Regions from separate parts of the Homo sapiens genome. Here all the other regions are linked to region 2. The links come from fine-mapping of genetic effects on gene expression. A gene starts in region 2. Each other region holds a variant in brackets. All regions are shown on one strand. Distances are between the middles of the regions. Region 1 has its middle 18 kb from the start of SMAP2. Region 2 holds the start of EXO5-DT (EXO5 divergent transcript). Region 3 has its middle 39 kb from the start of FOXO6-AS1.

Region 1 (8,198 bases), 150 kb after region 2:
CTAAAAGGAAGACAAGTAGAAAGGAAAGAAGGAAGAGAAAACCACAAAACAACCAGAAAACAAATAACAAAGTGGCAGGCATAAGTCCTTACTTACCAATAATAACACTGAATGTAAATGGACTAAACTCTCTGATGAAAAGACATAAAGTGGCTGAATGGATGAAAAAACAAGACCTGGTGATCTGTTGCATACAAGAAACTTACTTATAAAGACACAAATAGGGGTGCGGTGGCTCATGCCTGTAATCCCAGCACTTTGGGAGGCCAAGGTGGGTGGGTCACCTGAGGTCAGGAGTTCGAGACCAGCCTGGACAACATGGGGAAACCCCGTCTCTACTAAAAATACAAAAATTAGCTGGGCATGGTGGCACGCACTTGTAGTTCCAGCTACTTGGGAGGCTGAGGCAGGAGAATTGCTGGAACCTGGGAGACAGAGGTTGCAGTGAGCTGAGATTGTGCCACTGCACTCCAACCTGGGCAACAAAGCAAGGTTTTGTCTCAAACAAACAAACAAAAAAAGATACACATAGACTGAAAATAAAGGAATGGAAAAAGATATTCCATGTCAATGAAAACAAAAAAGAACAGAAGTAACTATATTTATAACAGACAAAATAGATTTCAAGATACAAACCATAAAAAGAGACAAAGAAGGTCATTATATAATGATAAAGGAATCAATTCAGCAAGAGGATGTATATATCTGCATCCAACACTGGAGCACCCAAATATATAAAGGAAATATTATTAGAGCTAAAGAGAGAAATAGACCCCAATACATTAATAGCTAGAAACTTCAACACCCTACTTTCAGCACTGGGCAGATCATCCAGACAGAAAACCAACAAAGAAACATCAGACTTAATCTGCACTAAAAATCGAATGAACCTAATAGATACAAAACATTTCATACAACAGCTGCGGAATACATATTCTTCTCCTCAGCACATGGATCATTCTCAAGGATAGAGTATATGTTAGGCCATAAAATAAGTCTTTAAAAATTCAAGACCAGGTGCAGTGGCTCATGCCTGTAATCCCAGCACTTTGTGTGTGTTTTTTGTTTTGTTTTGTTTTGAGATGGAATCTTGCTCTGTCGCCCAGTCTAGAGTGCAATGGTGTGATCTTGGCTTACTGTAACCTCCGCCCCCTGGGTTCAAGCAATTCTCCTGCCTTAGCCTCCCAAGTAGCTGGGATTACACATGTCCACCACCACGCCCAGCTAATTTTTTGTATTTTTAGCAGAGACAGTGTTTCACCACGTTGGCCAGGCTGGTCTCGATCTCCTGACCTCAAGTAATCCACCTACTTTGGCCTCCCAAAGTGCTGGGATTACAGGTGTGAGCCACTGCACCCGGCCAAAAATCAGTAGCATTTCTGTATGTCAACAGCAAACAATCTGAAAAAGAAATCAAGAAAGTAATCCCATTTACAATAGCTACAAATTAAGTAAAATACATAAGAATTAACCCAAGAAGTGAAAGATCTTAACAATAAAAACTATAAAACATTGATGAAATAAATCAAGATGACACAAAAAATGGAAACGTATTCCATGTTCATGGATTGGAAGAATAAATATTGTTAAAATATTCATATTGCCTAAAGCAATGTACAGATTTAATGCAATCCCTATTAAAAAAAAAACCAATAACATTCCTCAAAGAAATAGGAAAAACAATCCTAAAATTTATATGAAACCACAAAAGACCCAGAATAGCTAAAGCTATCCTGAGCAAAAAGAACAAAGCTGGAGTAATCACATTACCTGACTTTAAATTATACTACAAAGCTATAGTAACCAAAACAGCATGGCATTGGCACAAAAATGGACATATAGACAAATGGAGCAAAATGAAAAACCCTGAAACAAATCCATACACCTACAGTGAATTCTTTTTGAGCAAAGATGCAAAGAATATTGACTGGGGAAAAAACAGTCTCTTCAATAAATGGTGCTAGGGAAACTGCATACCTATATGTAGAAGAATGAAACTAGACCCTTCTCACCATATACGAAAATCAAACCAAAATTTGATCTAAGACTTAAATCTAAGACTTCAAACTGTGAAACTACTAAAAGAAAACACTGAGGAAACTCTCTGGGACATTGGACAGGGCAAAGATTTCCTTCTTTTTTTTTTTTTGTGGTTGTTGTTTGTTTTTGAGACAGAATCTCGCTCTGTGGCCCAGGCTGGAGTGCAGTGGTGTGATCTCAGCTTACTGCAACTTCTGCCTCCCAGGTTCAAGGAATTCTCCTGCCTCAGCCTCCTGAGTAGCTAGGACTACAGGCACACGTCACCATGCCTGGCTAATATTTGTATTTTAAGTAGAGATGGGGTTTCACCATGTTGTCCAGGCTGGTCTCGAACTCCTGACCTCAGGTGATCCAAAATTTCTCAAGAAATACCTCACAAGCACAGGAAACCAAAGCAAAAATGGACAATGGGGTCCATTGGAAATACTCAACAATCCAAAGGAAATAATCAACAAAATGAAGAGACAACCCACAGAATGGGGAAAAAAATGTGCAAACCATTCATCTGACAAGGGCTTAATAAACAGAATATATAAGGAGCTCAAATAACTCAATAGGAAAAAAATCTAATAATCTGATTTAAAAATGGGCAAAAAATCTGAACAGACATTTCTCCAAAGAAGACACACAAAGGTCAAATAGGTATATGAAAAGTTGCTCAACATCACTGATCATAAGAGAAATGCAAATCAAAACTAAAATGAGATATTATCTCACCCCAGTTAAAATGGCTTTTATCCAAAAGACAGGCAATAACGAACACTAGAGAGGATGTGAAGAAAAGGGAACCCTCGTACACTGTTGTTGGGAATGTAAATTAAGACAACCACTATGGAGAACAGTTTGGAGGTTCCTCAAAAAACTAAAAATAGGGGTCCAGCACGGTGGCTCACGCCTGTAATCCCAGCACTTTGGGAGGCCAAGGCGGGCGGCTCACAAAGTTAGGAGATCGAAACCATCCTGGTTGACACAGTGAAACCCCGTCTCTACCAAAAATACAAAAAATTAGCTGGGCATGGTGGCAGGTGCCTGTAGTCCCAGCTACTCAGGAGGCTGAGGCAGGAGAATGGTGTGGACCCGGGAGGCAGAGCTTGCAGTAAGCTGAGATCACGCCACTGCACTCCAGCCTAGG[C/T]GACAGAGCGAGACTTGGTCTCAAAAAAAAAAAAACAAAAAAAAACAAAAAACCCACAAAAAACTAAAAATAGAACAACCATATGATCCAGCAATCCCATTGCAAGGTGTATATCCAAAAGAAAGGAAATCAGTATATCGAGGGGATATCTGCACTGTCCTGTTTATTGCAGCACTGTTCACTATAGCCAGGACTTAGAAGCAACCTAAGTGTCTGTCAACAGACAAATGGATAAAGAAAATGTGGTACGTACATACAATGGAGTACTATTCAGCCATAAGAAAGAATGAGATCCTCTAGTTTGCAACAAGAATGGAACTGGAGGTCATTATGTTAGTGAAATGAGCCAGGCACAGAAAGACAAACTTCACATGTTCTCACTCATTTGTGGGAGCTAAAAATTAAAACAACTGAACTCATGGAGACAGAGAGAAGAATAATGGTTACCAGAGACAGGGAAGGTTAGTGGGGGTGGGGGAAAGTGGGAATGGTTAACGGGTACAAAAATATAGTTAGATAGAATGAATAAGATCTAGAATTTGCTGGGTGCAGTGGCTCACACCTATAATCCCAGCATTTTGGGGGGGCTGAGGCAGGTGGGTCGTTTGAGCCCAGGAGTTCCACAGCAACCTTGGCAACATAGTGAGACCTCGTCTCTACAAAAAATTTAAAAATTAGCACATGCTTGTAGTTCCAGCTACTTGAGGGGCTGAGAAGGGAGGATTGCTTGAGCCTGGGAGGTCAAGGCTGAAGTGAGCCCTGACCGGTGCCACTGCACTCCAGCCTGGGCAACAAAGTGAGACTCCGTCTCAAAAAAAAATCTAGTATTAGATAGCACAACAGGGTGACTACAGTCAAAAATAATTTATTGTATATTTTAAAATAGCTTAAAGAGTATAATTGAATTGTTTGTAACACGAAGAATAAATGCTTGAGACACCCTATTTACCCTGATGTGATTATTATGCATTGTATGTCTGTATCAAAATATCTCATGTACCCCATAAGTACATACACCTACTATGTACACACAAAAATTAAAAATTAAAAATAAGCAATTATAAATACATATTGAAAGTATAATAGTATAGTGATAACGAGGAATAAGCAAAAAAGAGACCAAAACAAAAATTCTTAGTAAACAGGCACTGATACTCATCATTATCCTTGAAAACTAGTCAGAGGCAAAAGCACCACTATCATAACCTGAGTAGAGGCCGGAAGAGTGCTGAAGGTGGCAAAGCAAGAATAGAACTCTGGTCAGTTTCTATTAATGGCCATTAATTTTAATGGCAAAAACCACAATTATTCTTTATCAGTATCAGCATAAGGGTGATCTGTAAAACCTTCAATGAGGCCAGGTGCACCTCAGGCCTCACTTTGGGAGGGTGAGGCTGGCAGAACATTGGGAGGGTGAGGCGGGCAGATGACTTGAGGCCAGGAGTTTGAGACCAGCCTGACAAACATGGTGAAACCCCCTCTCTACTAAAAATACAAAAGTTAGCTGGGTTTGGTCGTGGGTGCCTATAATCCCAGCTACTCAGGAGACTGAGGCAGGAGAATCACTTGAACCCGGGAGGTGGAGGTTGGAGTGAGCTAAGGGCCGAGATCACGCCACTGTACTCCAGCCTGGGTGACAGAGTGAGACTCTGTCTCAAAAAAAAAAAAAAAAAAAAAAAAAAATTCAATGTTTTGGTTCATTTCACTGCTCTGATATGCCAGACTAGTTGGTCACAAGTTATACTACTAAAGCTAATAAAATCCAAAACAATTCTCATTTAAAAAAAATTAACTAACCTTATATTAAAAAACTTGGCTGGGCACGGTGGCTCACGCCTGTAATCCCAGCACTTTGGGAGATCGAGGCAGGCAGATCCCAAGGTCAGGAATTTGAGACCAGCCTGGCCAATATGGTGAAACCCCATCTCTACTAAAAATACAAAAATTAGCTGGGTGTGGTGGTGGGCGCCTGTAGTCCCAGCTACTCGGGAGACTGAGGCAGGAGAATCACTTGAACCCGGGAGGCGGAGATCAGTGAGCCGGGATCACGCCACTGCACTCCAGCCTGGGCGACAGAGCGAGACTCCATCTCACAAGCAAAACAAAACAAACAAACAAACAAAAACTCACAATCTTACTATTATCAACACCCATGGACTCTAGGACATAATTTGAGACATTTCCTGTTGAGGCAGTCTTTATTCCATTTGAAGTCACCCTTGGATGAGCATCCCTCTGGATTTTTCTCTGCTTGTGCCCTTCCTACAGAGTCCAGCTCTCTGTAAGTTCAGAAGGCCTTTGAATGAGAATCAAGAGAAACCCAACTAACAGTAGCTTAAAGAGTGGTTTATTTTATCACTGAACAAGAAATCCAGAGGCAAGGGAGTGGTTTACATTGATTCAGCTTCTGGACAAGGCCATCAACACCCAGGCTTTATCATTCTGCTTTGCCATCCTCAACCTATTGTATTTTTATCCTGATGTTTAATGGTTCTCAAAGTGTGGTCCCCAGACAAGCAGCATCAGTGTCACCTGGCAACTTGTTAGAAATGCACATTCTGGCCAGGCACGATGGCTCACACCTGTAATCCCAGCACTCTGGGAGGCTGAGGCAGGAGGATTGCTTGAGGTCAGATGTTCAAGACCACCCTGGCCAACATAGCAAGATACTTGTCTGTTAAAAAAAAAAGAAAGAAAGAGAGAAATGCAAATTCTCAGCCCACTCTAGGTGTATAAATCAGAACTTCTGAGGATAGGGCTCAGCAGTCTCTTTTAAGAAGCCTTCTGGGCCATGTGCAGTGACCTGTAATCCCAGCACTTTGGGAGGCCAAGGAGGGTGGGTCACTTGAGATTAGGGACTCGAGACCAGCCTGGCCAACATGGTGAAAACCCATCTCTACTAAAAATACAAAAAATTAGCCGGGCATGGTGGCAAATGCCTGTAGTCCCAGCTACTCAGGAGGCTGAGGCAGGAGAATCACTTGAACCCGGGAGGCGGAGGTTGCTGTGAGCTGAGATCATGCCATTGCACTCCAGCCTGGGCAACAAGAGCAAAACTCTGTCTCAAAAAAATAAAGAAGCCCTCTGGGTGACTATTCTGGTGCACATTCAAGTATGAGAACTGCTGCTCATGTAAATCACCTCATGGTCACAAGATGGTCACCACAGCTCTAAACATTGCATCATCTTCCAATGAAGGAAGAAGAGAAAAGGAATGTCCCCAATCTTAGCTGTTTCTTTTATCAGGAAAACAAAAGTTTTCCGAGAAGCTCACAGCAGTCTTTCCCTTAAGACTCCTTGGCCAAAACTAGGTTGCATGGCTCAGCCTCTAACTGCAAAGGACACCAGGAAAGCCCTTATGGCAGGAGGCAGCAAGAGAGATGGGTGCTGGACATGGCTGTGGGCAACCCCGGACAATGTCTGCCATAGAGTCCATGGTGGTCAGGACCATGGAAAACGTCATGCCTGACTCCATCTGCAAACGTAGTCTTAGAACTTTCAGATTCTTCAGATGGGAGTACCCAGACATAAAAATTTCATTGTTGTTAATATCTATCAATTGTGGTCGAGATCATTACACATCATGCTAAAATAATCCTTTCCCATCAAAAATGAGGAGGAGGCGCCGCGTGTGGTGGCTCACACCTGTAATCTTAGAGCTTTAGGAGGCCAAGGAGGGAGGATCGCTTGAGGCCAGGAGTTTGAGACCAGCCTGGGCAACATAGCGAGGCATTGTCTCTACAAACTTTTTAAAAAATTAGCAGAGAATGGTGGCTTGCTGCTGTAGTCCTAGCTAAGGTGGGAGGATTGCTTGAGCCTGGGAGTTCAAGGTTGCAGTGAGCTATGATCATGCCACTGCACTCCAGCTTGGATGACAGAGCAAGATCCTGTCTTTAAAAGTAAAAAAAAATAGAAAAACTTTTTAAATTAAAATATTTTAAAATGAGCAAGGGAAACAACAAAGAAGGAAGAAGAGAAAGAAGTGACGAACTCTGCCTTGACAGAGTGGAGTTCTTTTCCGAGCAATCAAGGAGGAGAACATTATAGGCAGAGAGATTAAAATGCATGAAAATGCAGAACTGAAAAAGAACTCTGAGCTGCTAGAGAGGTTACATGTGGCAAGCATTAGGAGAAGCTGGACAGAGGGTGAGGGCCAGATCACGAAAGGCCTTGTATGCTGTGCTGAGAAGGTTGAACTCCACCCTGTTCCTAATATCATTAAAGCTTGGAGGGCATCTTATCCTGGGTCCACAGATGGACTTTGGCACCTTATCAACACTATTTATTTTAAACATTATTTATAATATCAACCCCCTGAAATTGTATGAAAAATTTCATGGAGCTGCTCTGCCTATGGAGTAACTATTCTTTTGTTTCTTTACTTTCTTAATAAACTTGCTTTCACTTTACAAAAAGAAAAAAAAATTCATGGATGTGCGGGTGTGTGCAGTCTTGGGGAGAGAGGGCCTCAGATTTGCAGGGATGTGCATAACCCAAAGAAGCTTAAGAATCTGGCTGGGTACGGTGGCTCACACCTGTAATTCCAGCACTTTGGGAGGCCGAGGTGGGTAGATCACTTGAGGCCAAGAGTTCGAGACCAGCCTGGCCAACATGGTAAAGCCATGTCTCTATTAAAAAAAATTAAAATAGGCTGAGCGCGGTGGCTCACCCCTGTACTCCCAGCAATTTGAGAGGCCAAGGTGGGTGGATCACCTGAGGTTAGGAGTTCGAGACGAGCCTGACCAAATGGTAAAACCCCATCTCTACTAAAAATACAAAATTAGCCGGGCTTGGTGGTGCACGCCTGTAATCCCAGCTACTCCGGAGGCTGAGGCGTGAGAATCGCTTGACCCAGGAGGCAGAGGTTGCAGTGAGCCAAGATCGTGCCATCGCACTCCAGCCTGGACAACAAGAGTGAAACTCTGTATCAAAAAATAAATAAATAAATAAAAATGAAAGAATCATTTCTTTAAGGAGTCAAGGAGTTAATCATTGTATTCTGTATTCATCACCAGAATAAATTTAT
Region 2 (8,198 bases):
AACTCAAAATTTACTGCTATAATAGAGAATATTTATTGTGCGGTTATTTTTTGTGTGCCAGACACTGAGCCACGTGTTTTACATCCAATATCTCACTACCCTACTGTGGGATGGGGATGGGTACTGTACTCCTTTTTTCTTTCAACTTTTTACTATAAAGATTTTCAAGGCCGGGTACAGTGGCTAAAGCCTGTAATCTCGGCACTTTGGGAGGCCGAGGCAGGTGGATCACCTGGGGTCGGGAGTTTGAGACCAGCCTGGCCAGCATGGTGAAACTAAAAATACACCTCATGGTGAAACTAAAAATACAAAAAATTAGCCGGGTGTGGTGGCGGGCACCTGTAATCCTAGCTACTCGGGAGGCTGAGGCAGGAAAATCGCTTGAACCTAGGAAGTGGAGGTTGCAGTGAGCTGAGATAACACCACTGCACTCCAGCCTGGGTGACAGAGTGAAGACTCCATCTCAAAAGAAAAAGAAAATTTTCAAACATACAGAGAAGTAGAAAGAATAAAACAACAAACACCCATGTCCACACCATGTAGATGAACAACTGTTGACATTTTGCTGTATTTACTTCTTGTGTGTGTACTTTTTTGTTTTGGCTGAACTATTTTAAAGTAAATTACAGATAGCATAAAACTTTAAAATCTAAATGTTTCAGCATAATTTCCAAATGGCATTCTTCTTCATAACCACAATACTGTCTTCCAAATGACATTCTCCTCATAACTACATTATCACATCTGACAAAATTAGTAATTCCTTAACATTCCAGTTCATATATAAATTTCCCCAACTGTCCTCAAAATGTCCTAGATAGCTTTTCTTTAATCCAGGAAACAAAGACCACACATTATGTTTGATTGTTTTGTCTTTCAAGTATTTTTTAATCTTAAGAAACTGGGCGGCCAAGCGCAGTGGTTCACGCCTGTAATCCCAGCACTTTGGGAGGCCAAGGCGGGCGGATCATGAGGTCAGGAGATCGAGACCATCCTGACTAACACGGTGAAACCTGTCTCTACTAAAAGTACAAAAAATTAGCCGGGCTTGGTGGTGGGTGCCTGTAGTCCGAGCTACTTGGGAGGCTGAGGCAGGAGAATGGCGTGAACCCAGGAGGCGGAGCGTGCAGTGAGCTGAGATCCCACCACTGTGCTCCAGCCTGGGCAACAGAGCGAGACTCCGTCTCAAAAAAAAAAAAGAAAAAAGAAAAAAGAAACTAGGCAAATTATCTTATGAAGATACTCTTTTTAAGCCTTCCTTCTAACCCCACATATCTAACCTGCATAGAGAGTAAGCAAAACAAGATACAACCAGTCCATTAGTGTTTGACTTTGAGTGCCAGGAAAATAAATAATTTGACATAGAATTTTAGCTGATAGAGATAGCTATGAACCAAATGTCCCCTTCTTGCTATTCTAATAAGCAGTGAAATAAGGTGAATGCACCAACTCCTATGTCAAAGCGTAAGAAGTGATGCCCTGAAAACGTCATTAATATCAGTTGTGGTTGTGTTTAACTGATTTTTAAATAGTCTAAATGTCACTAATGAAAGAAAACATAGATAGCTAGAAGAAAAGTTATCTGCAATGAATAAAAATAATACAATAGTAAGACTTTTGCTTATAGAGTATCCTACAACATTATTGCTTTACAGGATATTTCAATAGTAACAAAATACAGAAGCTGTGCATTTACACAAGTGTTATAAACTGTCAATGTGCTTTAAATAATTTCAAGAAACTTTATTTCAACTATGAAGTCTCTGAAAATTGGAAAGAATATTTACCCTTCACCAAGAAACTAAAGTTAAAGGGCATTTATTTTTTCTTTTCTTTTATTTTATTTTTTGAGACAGAGTCTCACTCTTTCACCCAGGCTGGAGTGCAGTGGCGGGATCTCAGCTCACTGCAAGCTCTGCCTCCCGGGTTCACGCCATTCTCCTGCCTCAGCCTCCCGAGTAGCTGGGACTACAGGCACCCGCCACCGCGCCCAGCTAATTTTTGTATTTTTTAGTAGAGACGGGGTTTCATCGTGTTAGCCAGGATGGTCTCGATCTCCTGACCTCGTGATGCACCCGCCTCGGCCTCCCAAAGTGCTGTGATTACAGGCGTGAGCCACCGCACCCAGCCCTAAAGGGCATTTATAACACATATGCTATGAGGTATTTGTGAGGGTGAGGGGGAACTCCAAGTCCAAATCAATAACCTTAAAATATTTTATTTCAAATATCTAGACCTGGCTGTCCAATATGGTAGCCATTAGTAGCCACTAGCCATATGTGGCTACTTAAATTTAATTAAAATAAAATAAAATTCACATCTCAGTTGCACTAGCCATATATTAAGTGCTCAGTAGCTACATCTGGCTGGTGGATACAGATAAGGCACAGATACAGAACATTCCCTGATCACAGAAAGCTCTACTGAACAGCATAGAGTTAGACTATTTCCTGTGTACACATTAACTCCCCAAAGAGAGAGGAAGCTCCTGAAATGTATGGAGTTCCTACTTGTTTTACATACAACATTGAGAACAGGTAGTTCTAAACAGGGAAGTGAAATGTCTTTTGGAGAAGATACAAAGCAGGGCATTCTCTGTGAAAGTATTCATCTATAAGAATAAAACAGTACACTAGGGATGGATGACTGATGCTCAGATGTGTCTGGGACTTTCCTACGCAGAAAAGAATCCAGAAGAGAGCATAATGCAGTGCATTGTGTCCCAAATTGTAGTTTGTATGTCTGACACGAGACGATTTTACATAGCACATGGACCAACATTTTTAGATACACCTTAGAATAACTATACTGTTATTGGAGCAGCCATCAAATGGCTAATTTCACAGATATTGTTTCTTAGGACAAGTTTGATTTTTATAAAAAAAAAAAGTAAGTAAAAACATAGAATAATACAGGTAGTACACAGGTATGGCAAAATTGTTAGGTAGTAAGTGAATGGGATGCTGGGAAACAGCATAATGCCAAGAGTCTGGGAGTCCTACAGATATGGATTCTAAACCTAATCCTGAGTAGTTCGGTAGCATTTAGTAGTATGCTACTTGCCTTTTGAGTAAGCTTGGACAAGGTTCTAGTTTTCCTGAAGTTACTGACACATTTTTAAAATACCTACTAACCCTACTGAGATATCCGACCATTGAGTGATAACATATAGTACGCATATTAGCACTCGATGAAGATAGATCTCCTTCTTTTTCCCCAAGGAAGAGATGAGAGAGTGTATCGATTCCCCCTGACAAAGGAGATGAAACTTTAGAAGAGAAACTCCTATTCACCTGTGACTTCGTTGATCTTCCTCCTCATAGGGAAGGCCAGAATGCTGAAATGACAAGGCTAGGGAAGAGAAAGAAGTTCTGAAAGACCAGGTCTGCATTAAAGAACCTAAATTAGCAACTTAGGTCCTTGCTATGGTAGAACCGGAACTTCTGGTCCTTTCTTACCTGACCATTCCCTCACGTTGGGTGTTTTCTCCTCTCACATTGACACTGCACAGACTGTTACCCACCCCAGATCCTAGGTTACATAACGCTCGCCTCTCTCCTGGGGCAAACTCTCTCCATGATTTCTTCGTTCCCCCGTACTCTAGATGCAATGACTTGATCCAATCCCTGCTCCCTGAAAGTAAAAGGGTCAGACATAACCAAGATCCCCAAGGAGCTCCGAGATCAGTTCCCTCTTCCAGCTCCATTCTCAACCCAGCAGCTCAAGCAAGAGACCTTATGACAGCGGCTCTTTCTCTCAGATGGGTTACTGCCTTCTGCAGAATTGCCGATGGCAACATCCTGACTTGTTCAGTGCGGCCCGGACTTGTGGGCTCCGCGGGCGTTTGCCTTCAGGGAAGATCTTTCCTCTGGCCCTAAAGCACTGTCTCCCAGGGAGTGCCATGCATGCCCTAAAGTGTACTGAGCACTTCCTACAGTTCTGGCAGAGCCAGGAATAAGAACAGGGAGCCGTCCACCTCGGGAAGGAGTCCCGGCCAACAGCACTGTGTTCCGAGGGCGAAGGTCCAGAACGGGAACCCGGCCTGTGAGGGGAGACGAGACGAGCCGCTTCCCGGGAGCCGCGCCCACCAAGGGAGGGAGACGCGGCGATCGCAGGGACAGAACCCTAAGCTCCGAAACGCAGCCTCCCAGCCCATTCTCCGGCCTTCCCCTAACCTCTGATACTCCTCCGAACCTCGGACTCCACCTGGTTTCGCCGCGGCCTCGGAGCTGCTCCCGGACGCTCCCGGCGAGGAGACTGAGGAAGCCGGGCAGAGCGCGCTGCCGGAGCGGACTACACAGTCGGCCCGCCACTCGCAAAAAAGCCGCCCAGAGCCCAGTCCCAGAGTGCCCCGCGGCTGCCCACGGACCGCCTTCCCAGAGGCCCTCGCGGCGCCGCCTACCTCGCGAGGCTGCGGCTGGGGCAGAAATCCGTCTCTGTGAGCGGAGGAGGGTGTGCTTATGCGAGAGCAGGTTTTGGGAGCTCACTAAAGCAGGTCAGTCCCTCTGTTTGCGCCGTTGTCTGTGGGTCGTTTAATTCCGGGCGCAGCTGATCTGTAACTTCCCTCACTGGCGAGGTCTCCCAGTTACCACCGGGACAATCCGAGCAAGGTCTGGGCCCCTCGCTGCCCCCGGTGAAGTGCCGCGTCTCCGCTTGGCCATCCGTGGATTCAGCATCCCCACCTTAGCACCTCCCGCCGGCTTTTCCATTGAGAGCAAAACCACGAACTCACTTTTGAGAGATGCTGGCGCTCCCCTCATCAATATTTCTTTTTTTTTTTCTGTTTGCTTACTTTTAACTAACCTTTTATTGATAAATATAACACAATTTTATTCTGAAATATAAACCAAAGATAAGTATAATTATGAACAGCCAAGTCATTAGAGCGAAAAAAGAATAGTGTCAGGTTCTTCACAGATACACTTCCTGAGAAAACCACTAGCCCGACTTTTATAACACTTTGCTTTTCTTATTTATATTTATTTATTTATTTATTTTACCAAAAGCAGATACTTGACTCTTTGCTTTTCTTTACGGTTTATCACGCATACTTGAAAACTGGATTTATGACAAAGGTGGCATCATACAGCCATGGAGAAAAGATGGTCTATTCAGTGAAGGTTCTATGACAATATGAAGGCCGGGCACGGTGGCTCACGCCTGTAATCCCAGCACTTTGGGAGGCTGAGGTGGGCGGATCACGAGGTTAAGAGATCGAGACCATCCTGGCCAACATGGTGAAACCCTGTCTCTACTAAAAAGTACAAAAATTAGCTGGGTGTGGTGGCACACACCTGTAGTCCCAGCTATTCAGGAGGCTGAAGCAGGAGAATCGCTTGAACCGGGAGGCGGAGGTTGCAGTGAGCGGAGATCACACCACTGCACTTCAGCCTGGGCAACAGAGGGAGACTCCGTCTCAAAAAAAAAAACAAAACAGAAAACAGGACCTCTATCTCTCATTTCATCACAAAAATCAATTGTAGCTGGATTAAGACCTAAATGTGAAATCCTAAACTATAAAGTCTTCAGAATATAATATAGGAAAATATCTTTGGACTTCAGAATAGGTAAATATTTTAAAACAAAAATAGAAAAACATTAAATTGGCCAGGCATGGTGGCTCATGCCTGTAATACCAACACTTTGGGAGGCCCAGGTAGGCGGATCACTTGAGGTCAGGAGTTGAGACCAGCCTGGCCAACATAGTGAAACCCCGTTTCTAGTAAAAATACAAAAAATTAGCCAAGTGTGGTGGCAGGTGCCTGTAATCTCAGCTACTTGGGAGGCTGAGGCAGGAGAATCACTTGAACCTGGGAGGCGGAGTTTGCAGTGAGCCGACAACAGGCCACTGCACTCCAGCCTGGGTGATAAAGTGAGACTCTGTCTCAAAAAAAAAAAGGAAAAAAAGAAAGAGAAAAAAGGAAAGAAAAAGAAAGAAAGAGAAAGAAAGAAAAGAAAAGAAAGAAAGAGAAACATTAAATTAAGACAACTACAGGCTGAGTGCAGTGGCTCACACACCTGTAATCCTAGAACTCTGGGAGGCCGAAGTGGGTGGATCCCTTGAGCTCAGTTCAGAAACCAGCTGGGGTAACATGGTGAAAACACGTCTCTACAAAAAATACAAAAATTAGCTGGGGGTGGTGATACGTGCCTGTAGTCCCAGCTACTCTGGTGCGTCAGTTGGGAAAATTTTGAAGTGACTTGTGTTTTAGATAATATTATCAATCAATTATAGGTCTCCTGAGTGTCATAATGATTTTGTGGTTATGTAGGAAAATGTTCTTTTTCTTAGAAATATGTAAGTTGAGGCCAGGTACGGTGGCTCTCGCCTGTAATCCTAGCACTTTGGGAGGCCGAGGCGGGCGGATCACCTGAAGTCAGGAGTTCAAGACCAGCCTGGCCAACATGGTGAAACCCTGTCTCTACTAAAATACAAAAATTAGCCGGGCATGATGGCAGGTGCCTGTAATCCTAGCTACTCGGGAGGCTGAGATGGGAGAATCGCTTGAAACCGGGAGATGGTGGTTGCAGTGAGCCGAGATCATGCCACTGCACTCCAGCCTGGGTGGCTGACTGAGACTCTTGTCTCAAAAAAAAAAAAAAAAAAAAATGGAATTTAAGTGTATTAAATAGTCTGTTCTCATGCTGCTAATAAAGACATACCTGAGATTGGGTAATTTATAAAGGAAAGAGATTTAATTGACTCACGGCTCCACATGGCGGGGGAGGCCTCACAATCATGGAGGAAGGTGAAGGAGGAGCAAAGTCACCTCTTACATGGTGGCAGGCAAGAGAGAACATGTGCAGGGGAACACACCTTTATAAAACCATCAGGTCAGCTGGGTGTGGTGCCTTATGCCCGTAATCCCAGCACTTTGGGAGGCCATGGCTGGTGGATCACCTAAGGTCAGGAGTTCAAGACCAGCCTGGCCAACATGGTGAAACCCTATCTCTACTAAAAATACAAAAAATTAGCCAAGCATGGTGGCAGACGCCTGTAATCCCAGCTATTCGGGAGGCTGAGGCAGGAGAATCACTTGAACCTGGGAGGCGGAGGTTGTGGTGAGCTGAGATCGCGCCACTGCACTCCAGCCTGGGCAACAAGAGTGAAATTCCATCTCAAAAACAAAAACGAAACAAAACAAAACCATCAGATCTTGTGAGACTTATTCACTATCACGAGAACAGCATGGGAAAGACCTGCCCCCACGATTCAATTACCTCCTACCAGGTACCTCTTCCATGATATGTGGGAATTATGGGAGCTACACTTCAAGATGAGATTTGGGTTGGGAGACAACCAAACCATATCATTGAGGAAATGCTTTTTAATCCATTGAGATATGAGAAGGCATTTCTGGATTGAGGCTACAAAAACTTTCTGCCTCTTCCCCAACATAACCTTTCTTACTTGAGATGTAAACTGAATGCCAGGAAAACCCCTCCCCAACCCCTTCACACATGGACCACTCCTCAAATGGGGTTTGAGGGGCAATGACACTGGGTAGAGTGAAGCAGAAGAGATTTAGAAACAGTCATGGAATTTGTGGGGAAAATAAATATCAAAAACATAGTACCATATATTCCCCAAAACTTTCAGCCTAAAGACTGTGGGTCTCAAAACTGAGAAAAGAATGCCCTTTTCCCCAAAAGGCTATCCTAGGAAGTCTGAGTCCTTAAGGCCCACCTGTATGCAAAAGTCACTGATTTGGTTCTTCCATCTCCAGGTCTGTAACCATCAAAATACTGTTAGACACAAATGGCCCATTTTCCTCTGTGTCCATTCTTCCCTCCTTGGTGTTTTGGAGCACAGGACTGTACCCCTAACATTGTACTGACTACAGTCTACCATATATCGGAGTAAGTCTTTATGTGATTACTCCCAGAGCTGCACTGTCCAATACAGTAGCCACTAGTCATATGTGGCTCTTGAACACTTGAAATGTGGCTAGTCCAAAATGAAATGTGCTATAATTATAACATTTACAAGCACTTTGAAGCTGAGTACAAAAAAAAGGTTAAATAACTCACTAATAATGTTTACATTGATTAAATGTTGAGATGATAATGTTTTGGATATATTGGTGATATGGTTTGGCTCTGTGTTTTCCACCCAAATCTCACCTTGAATTTTAATAATCCCCATGTGTCATGGGAGGGACCCAGTGGTAGGCAATTGAATCATGGGGACGAGTTTT
Region 3 (8,198 bases), 910 kb before region 2:
CTGACAGTGTCAAAATTACCCTGGGAATGTGTGAAAATGTAGATCTAGGGGATCCCCTCCACCCCCAGCAGAGGAGTAGACTGCGGACCCAGGCACCTGCAGATTTGACAAAAAGCATCCCAGACCCACACTCTCGGAGGGCTTCTTGCCACTTCTGCAGAGGGGAGGCTCTTCCAGAGATGGGATGCCCCAGGATCCCTGAGCCTCCCCACATCTTTGCAGCTTCATCCCCTGGGGCTCCTCAGAAACCTAGAGCCGAGTTCCAGCTTTCACTCCCACCAGCAAACTTTCCGTAGAATTCTCTGCCAGCACCTCTCTGTCTAGGTCCTCTCCACCCAGGCCACAATTACTGGCCACTCCCACTTTCCCTCCCACCCAAAGCAGAAGGCTAGGTTTTTTTGTTTTCTTCTTTTTTAATTGAGGTAAGATTTGCATACAGTAAGGGGCACTATTTTGAAGTGAACAGCTCGATGTATTTCTACCTCTGAACCCTCCGGGTCACTACCCCCCAGGCTAAGCTCTAGACCGTTTCACTCACCCCAGGGAGCTCCCATCAAGACCCCTTGCCTTGCCTCCCACACTGTTCTGAGTCCATCACCATGGATGGGATGTGAGAGGCCTGTTTCTGGAGTGATCTGTGCTTTCAGCCCCTGGAATGCAGGCTCCATGAGGACAGGCTGTCCTACTCCTTGCATTGCCTGGCACCAGGCAGGTGCTGGGAAACTGTGGCCCCCTCCAGTGGCTCCCACTGGCTCCTAGACATTTCCCTTCCGCTTTCTCCCTCACACAGCTCAGACACTGACCCCAGCCACGCCCATATCCAAGCTCACACCCACCCTTGCCCCATGCATTTCCTCCAGCGGTGCTTCCCACTTAGGGTGGGGTGGCCCCTAGCTCCTACCCACTGTGGCCTCCCTCACCCCAGAACACTGCACTCATCGTGTTTTGTCTCCTATGCCCGTCCCACACTGCCTCACACATGCTGGGCTTGACAATCGCACTGCCATCCATTAGTCCTACCATACACCCTCATACTCACACATGTGACCATGGGACAGTCACTCCCCCTCTCTGGGTCTCAGTTTCACCATCTGTAAAGTGACACAATCAGGCTAAGTGCATTCTGTGAGCTCCTTTGGCTCTGAAAATAGCAAGTGTAAATACATATTTGTTAGACAAATAAATAGCCCCAAAGAATGGGTCTTCACTGATAGTGGGATTGTAGCATCTGCTGGAGTCATTTTAGAGGCAGAATTCCAAGTGTGGTGTCAAGAGTGCTGGCTGTGGAGCCAACTGCCTGGGTTAAAACCCTGGGTCTCAACTTTCCCATCTGTAAGATGGGGATAATAGTGGGGCAGGGTGAAGACGAAATAGGAGAGTGCACAGAAGCAGTTGTGGTGCAGAGAAGCCTGGCACTCACCTAGTGCACAGTAGAGTTTAGCTCCTACTGGCATTCCCAGGGCCCAGGGTCACTCAGCAAGCCCTGGAGTCCACACCCGCCCAGGACCAGAGGGCAGAGCAAAATGTGGCAGCAGTTTCTGCCGCATGCCACCAGAGGGCACCATGATGCAGCCAAGTGCGCCAAGGCCTCCCTGACTCACCCCAGGAAGACCACTCCTGAGGGAGGAGGGCAGTGCCAGCCAAAGCCTGCCGGCCAGAAGGACAAGGATGAGCCTCCATCCTCCAGAAGGGCTTCCACCACCACAGCCCTTTCTCCAGAAGATGCCCTACACCACCTCAGCCTGACATTCTGTCCATTTCTATCACAGCCTGTGATCCACAACAGCCTAGAGAACACGGATACTTCCTACCAAAGCCATTAGACCCATTTCACAGATGGGGAAACTGAGGCCCAAGAGAAGGCAAGATCAGCCCCAGGTCATGAGTGAATTTTTGTCTTCCTGTTCAGGCTGGCTTCCCTGCACACCCCCTAAGCATCCGTGGTATGACTCCCAACCGAGGCTGGGGTACCAGCACCTACGCTGCCTCCCTGGCTCCCTGAAGGCTGCAGGAGACAGGGGAAGCCACAAGTGTGAGGGTGGGGAGGCCTCAGCATAAGGGATGGAGAGAGCCAGGGGGGCGGGGGGCAGAGGGAGGCAGAGCAAAGCAACACGGGAAACAGGGCGGGGGCACGAGAGAGATGTGGGAGAGACATTCGGAAGAGACGGGTGGGACAGGAAGAGAGATAGACGGACAGACAGAGAAACCGAACCCTGAGGGAGAAGTGGGGGAGTGAGGGCGGCCGCAGGAGGCAGAGGAAGGGAGAAGGGAGAGCTCCCAGATGCAGGGAGCACACTAGGAAGAGAGATGGGGACAGACACAGAGAGACGGCTGGAAGGGGAAGAGGAAAACCCCTCCCCTCTCAGCCCCACAGCCCCCCACACCCCAGAAGCTTCACCCTTGGCTGGAGGAGGGGACCCTCTTTCCCTGTCCTGGGGGCTAAGCCCAGGCTTGGCACTCGCCCTCTGCTCCGCCCCCACCCAGCAGGTTCCTCAGCCAGACACCTGGGGATGGCGGTTGAGCTGGGCTCCCTGGGGCACCTGAGGCAGACAGGCAGGGTCCCCAAGGCCATGTTGCTAGGAGATGCGGCCCTAGGGCCCCAGCTTATCTCCTGAGCCTCTTCCAGGGCAGGGCTTGGGACTCACCTGGGGCACCAACCTCCCTGAGCTCCCGCCCCACTCAGCCCTGGTGGGCCCCTGCTGGGCATCCTACAGGCCCCTGTGCAGTGAAGAGGCACCCTTCATCCCTCTCCCTAGCCTCCGAAGGCAGAGGGAATGATACTTGGTGAGCACCTGTGGTTTGCCAGGCCTCACCAACTCCCAGCACCCTGTCCTGTCCTGTCCCAGCCACTGGGCCTGGTGTGCTCTTGAGAGACACTAAAACCCAGAGAGGCTGGTTCAAATTTCCACCTGCCTTTTACGAGCTGTGTGACCTTGGGCAAGTCACATACCTCCTCTTCTCCCTCATCTAAGGATGAGATCAGCAACCTCATCTTTAAACAGGGACAGTATCTGCTTCATAGGGTTGTCCAGAGGAGGAAAAGCCACAGTGGGAAGAGGGGACAGGAAAGGCTGGTTTCTATCACTGTTCCTGTCCCTGAGCCTGCAGGGCTGTGGCTGGGGGCACCTCCCAGCACCTCCCCAGTCAGCCCTGTCCTGGCCCTGCTTTGAGCCCAGTGATTCACAGCAGCCTCTAGGGAAAGGGCTGCCCTGACCTCTCCCCAAGGCACTTGGACAGACACAATGAGGGATAAACCCTGGGGCACAGGCAAAGCCACACCCTTGTCCCTCTGTTCTGTTTTAGGGACTCAGGTAAGAGCAACTTACCTCCCAGGCCCTGTTTTAAGCACCTTAGCAAACCCACAAGGGCACCTGGTGCTGGTGTGACCATTATCCCCATAAATGGATGCTCAGAGCTATGCCTCTGCACAAGCTCCCCAACCAGGAATAGAGGGGCTCTGGTGCTTGGACCCAGGCTGACAGCTTCAAGAGCCCCAGCCCTTAACCTCCAGGCCTCAGTACCTGGAAAACCCAGAGAGAGGGTCTCACAGGGAGAAGCAGGAAGGTGGAGGCTGGGCCAGGGCTCCTCCCCGATGCTCCCATCCCAGCTCTAGTGCCTGGCTTGGACATGGCAGGTGAGAGGCCTGGAAGGCAGTGGGAGGACAAGTCCACGGCCAGACTCAAGCTTGATTTATTGTTTGCGCCTTCAGGCTGGCTTGTAAATCTCAGGCTGCAGCACCGGCCAGGCCCCTGGCAGGCCACAGGGGACAACTCCAGGAAGCCTCAGAGCATGCCATCCAGTGGGGGAGACTTCGCTCACCCTGCCCCAGAGCAGTCTCTTGGGGGAGACCCAAGAACTGCCCCAGGCATCACCAGGATACTCTGGAGCTCAAGGACCTGTGGCTATGCCTAGGGTGTCCAGCCCCGAGCCCCTTACCCAGGCCCTCTCCATGCCTTCACTCCACTTTCTCATTCCCCCCAGCCTCAGCAGGGACAGCACATGCAGTGTGGCAGTCGGGGCTGGGTGGGGGGGCTGCTGTTGGCAGCTGTGCCCAGGCCACTCCAACCTGTATGTCTGTCCAGCCATGCCCATGGCTATATGGAGATGGATGCCTGAGGTCAAGGCCCACCTTGTCCTGCTCCAGCCCCATGAACCCTGCAAGTCCCTTGACCTTTCACTTAAAAATTTAACAAGATGAAAGTGGCCAGCATTCACTAGGCAGTCTTGGTCAGAAGTGGTCCTCCACAGATGCCAGCTCCCTTCCTCCTTCCTTCAGGGGCACCAGGCACCCAGCCAGCCTGATCTCCGTTCGCTTCATGAGACACCAGGCCCTTGGCTAGAAGCTCTCTGACTGGGTCCAGGGAGCTAAAAGGAGAGAGAAGCAGAGGGCAGGTGATGTGCCAGCCTGGGGGGTGGGCACTGGTAACCATATGTCCGAGCAGTTCCATGCCAGGTGTGTAATATCTCTTTCTACCAGCATCAGCCCCCTCCTGCTCCTGGGGCTGCAGCCCTTTGGGGTCTCCTGGATTCACCTTCCATCCCTCCATACAGGCACACCCGCCACCCTCCAAAATGAGTTTAGATCCTGGCTCAGGCCCTTTCTAGCATTGTGAGACATTGTGCAAGTCACAGGCTATGTGTGTCATTGATGTAACACTGAAGGAGCATCCGAAGTGCAGTTATGACCTGGGGACATGTGAGGCCTTGGGTCTCAAACTGCGTGAGAGACTGGGGTAGCGGGGGAGGGCATGACCCGGCCAGTGTGTACGTGTGTTTGTGCACACCCACACATGCATGTGAGTATGCACAGGTGTGCGGGGCATGTGCATGTGTGCTCACATGTGTCTGTGCACATGTATGCTGTATGCTTGTCACATGCATATGTACTTGCATACACACTCATGTGCATGTGTGTGCAATATGTATGCATGCGTGTATCCTTGCGAGTACACCTATATGCACACTGCATACGTGTGTGTTTATGTGCTCTTGTGTGTAGTTGTGT[GTGTA/A]TTTTTTGTGCGTGTACTTTTTGTGCATGTGCATGAACGTGGGGGTGCAGCAGATCTCCCTGGCTCCTCTGAATCCCTCTTCCCTTTGATTCCTTCCCTCCTCCTCCCTCCATCCCTCTTCCTTGGCCCCGCAGCCAGATATGTAGACAGCCCAGGCTGGAGGCAAGGGTGAGTGGGAGATGATCACGCTGCACCACTCACAAGGACCCTCTAATCCTCTTAGCTCCCACTTAACCCCACAGCCCCCTGGTGGGAGCAGCCCCTGCCTGCTCTCAGCTGGCCTGGGGCACCGAGGCAGAGCAGTGGCTAATGGGCGTCCAAGCCAGCCCCCAACCAGTTCATTAGCAACGATGAACCCAGCAGCCTCGTGGGGGTTGGGAGGGTCACTTCTCAACCACTAAGACCCTTTCCTATCCATTATATCTTTTGATCCTGACAACTTTCTGCAAGGGGATTTTAATGCCCTTTTGACAGTGAAGGGCACTGAGGCTCAGAGAGAGAGAGGCTTCCTTGAGGTCACACAGCAGGACAGTGCCAGAGTTGGCTTAGCTCAGGCGTCACCCACACCTGAGGCCACAGGGAACAAGAAATGCATTGGGATGCTCCCCAGGGGAGGCTCATGATCCTAGGGCTCTGACATTTTGGGGTCTCCTCTCCACCAGAGCTCTGGGGCCCCAAATTCCCATGCAGTCCCCTTTCCACGCCCCCTGCCTCCACCCACACCCGAGTTTCCTGGCAGCAGCCTGCTGAAAGACCTGCCTTATCTCTGTCCTTTGCAAGGTCTGCCTGTTCATCCTGTAGGGCGAAGGGTCCTGCTCAGGGCCATCTCGGTGACAGTCCAGCCTGCATGCCACTCCCCATGTTTTCCTTTCCAGAGCCACGTGGGGTCACTTGCTATGCAGCAGGCAGACTGAGGTTAGCCTGGTGGCAGGGCAAGCCCAGACCGGCCCTGGCCTCTCCACATCAGCCCCTTCGCCCTGCTCCAACTCGCTCAGGGCACCCCTGAAGGTCCACTGCCCCAACTCACCCCTCCTAGCCAACTCTGCACACTGGGGTCCCTGTGCTTGGAACACCCTTCCCACCCTGTCACCCAAACTCTTTGTCTGCCTGACTTCTTCAGGTCTAGACCTAAATGTCACTGCCTCAGAGAACATTCCCCAACTACCTCATCTAAATGAAGTGTTTTTGTTATTCTCCTACAGGCACGTTTCACAATTTGTACAAACATATGTCTTTATGTCTTTGTTGGTCTACCCCACTTGATGGTAAGTTTCATGCATGAAGTCAAGGGACATGTATGTCCAACATTGGTCCTGGAGATGCCAGACACATAGGAGATTTTTGGTAAAACCTTGTTGAATAAATAAAGAGTGGAGAGATGAACCAGCAAGATGTGCCTCCTCCACACCTGCACAGCCAAAGAGCTGCATGGTGGGGAGGGTGGGAGATGCTGCCCAGGTCAGGCGGAAGCAGCCCTGGCTTGGTGCTCATACTCCAGGGACAGGCTAGGGAGGAGGTCCCACTCCCCAGCCAGCTCTCAGAGAGGTTGGCCAGTCCCTCAGCCTCCCAAGTGAGCAGGGGCTGAATCCGCCTCCTGATGGCCTCTCCTTGTTTTTTTCTTTTTCTTTCTTTCTTTCTTTCTTTTTTTAGACAGTGTCTTGCTCTGTGGCCCAGGCTGCAGTTCAGTGCCACGATCTCGGCTCACTGCAACCTCTGCCTCCCAGGTTCAAGTGATTCTCCTGCCTCAGCCTCCTGAGTAGCTGGGACTACAGGTGCCCACCACCATGCCAGGCTAATTTCTGTATTTTTAGTAGAGATGGGGTTTCACCATGTTGGCCAGGCTGGTCTTGAACTCCTGACCTCCAGTGATCTGCCCGCCTTGGCCTCCCAAAGTGCTGGGATTACAGGCATGAGCCACCACACCTGGCCTGGGCCTCTCCTCCTTCTAGGCCTTCCAGGAAAGAAGATCCCAGTCCCCCAGGCCTATGTAGACTCCACCATGTAGCCCTGGTCATGGCCCAAACTTGCTACGTGCCCCTGAGTGAGTCCCCACCCATCTCTGGGTCTCAGCTTCCTCATCCAAAAAACAAAGGAGTTGAAGAAGATGACCTCTGTCTGTAGTAGCAGCTTCCAAGAAGTCCCCGGTGCTTGTCATCACCTGGTAGTTGCATCCCTGTGTAGTCATTGAACAGAGCTGATCTTTGTACACAATGGGATATTATGAAAGTGACAGAGTGTGGCTTCCTAGGCTAGGTCGCAAAAGGACAGTGAGGCTTCCGTCTCACTCATTCTTAAATCACTTTCTCTGGGGGAAGCCAGCTGCCATGTTGTGAGGAGACTCAAGCAGCCCAGTGGAAAGGAAATGAGGCTTCTTGCCAGCAAGCTGCTCCAGCCTGCAGGTGTGTGATGAGTCATCTTAGAAGCAGATGCTTTCACCCAGGTGAACCTGCAGATGACTGCAGTCCCAAGCCAATATCTTTTCTCCATCCATCTTCCACACTGACTGCTGGAGGGAGGACTTTCTAAACTATAGATCCGGGCTGGGTAGAGTGGCTCACACCTGTAATCCCAGCAATCCCAGCACTTTGAGAGGCTGAGGCAGGCAGATTGCCTCAGCCCAGGAGTTCAAGACCAGTCTGGGCAACATGGTGAAACTATCTCTACAAAAAAAAAAAAAAAGAAGAAAATTAGTGGGGCATGGTGGCACACACTGTAGTCCCAGCTACTCAGGAGGCTGAGTCAGAAGAATCGCTTGAGCCCTGGAGACTGAGGCTGCACTGAGCCAAGATCGTGCCACTGCACTCCAGCCTGAGCAACAGAGCAAGACCCTGTCTCAAAAAGATAAAAATTAAAATTAAACATAGATCTGATCATGTTGCTCCTGCTCTAGAGCCTTCCATGGCTCCCTTGTTGCCTACAGAATAAGGTCCAAACCCCTTGGACTGGCATTTAAGACCTTTTATCATTGCCCCCAGTTACCTCTCCAGCCTGATCTCTAGTTTTTGTTTGTCTCAACTCTAATATCCCACTAAGACTGAACCACCTCTAATTTCTGAACACAAGAGATTTTCATGCCTCTGTGCCTTTGCTCACACTGTTCTCTGTATCTGAATATTCTTCCCCTTCTTTGCCCAGAAAACTCCTACCAATATGTCAAGACCCAGCCATTCTGATCCACCACAAAGCTCT

Evidence for each region.
Region 1: its variant is fine-mapped to the expression of EXO5-DT in coronary artery (GTEx, PIP above 0.99).
Region 3: its variant is fine-mapped to the expression of EXO5-DT in skeletal muscle (FUSION, PIP 0.95).

The regions. Positions count from the first base shown.
Region 1 is chr1:40,351,425-40,359,622 of GRCh38, reverse strand. It overlaps a transcript of SMAP2 not described here. Among named protein-coding and RNA genes, the nearest start is that of SMAP2, 18 kb to the left of the region's middle. The variant C/T (reference allele first, on the strand shown) is at 3,173.
Region 2 is chr1:40,504,886-40,513,083 of GRCh38, reverse strand. EXO5-DT (EXO5 divergent transcript) reads left to right here and starts at 4,389. Exons shown (of 2, transcript NR_187365.1): 1 at 4,389-4,495. EXO5 (exonuclease 5) reads right to left here and starts at 4,317. Exons shown (of 4, transcript NM_001346953.2): 1 at 4,176-4,317; 2 at 3,459-3,633; 3 at 3,294-3,351. RefSeq lists enhancers at 3,911-4,000, 4,031-4,280.
Region 3 is chr1:41,410,624-41,418,821 of GRCh38, reverse strand. No RefSeq gene overlaps it. Among named protein-coding and RNA genes, the nearest start is that of FOXO6-AS1, 39 kb to the right of the region's middle. The variant GTGTA/A (reference allele first, on the strand shown) is at 5,006.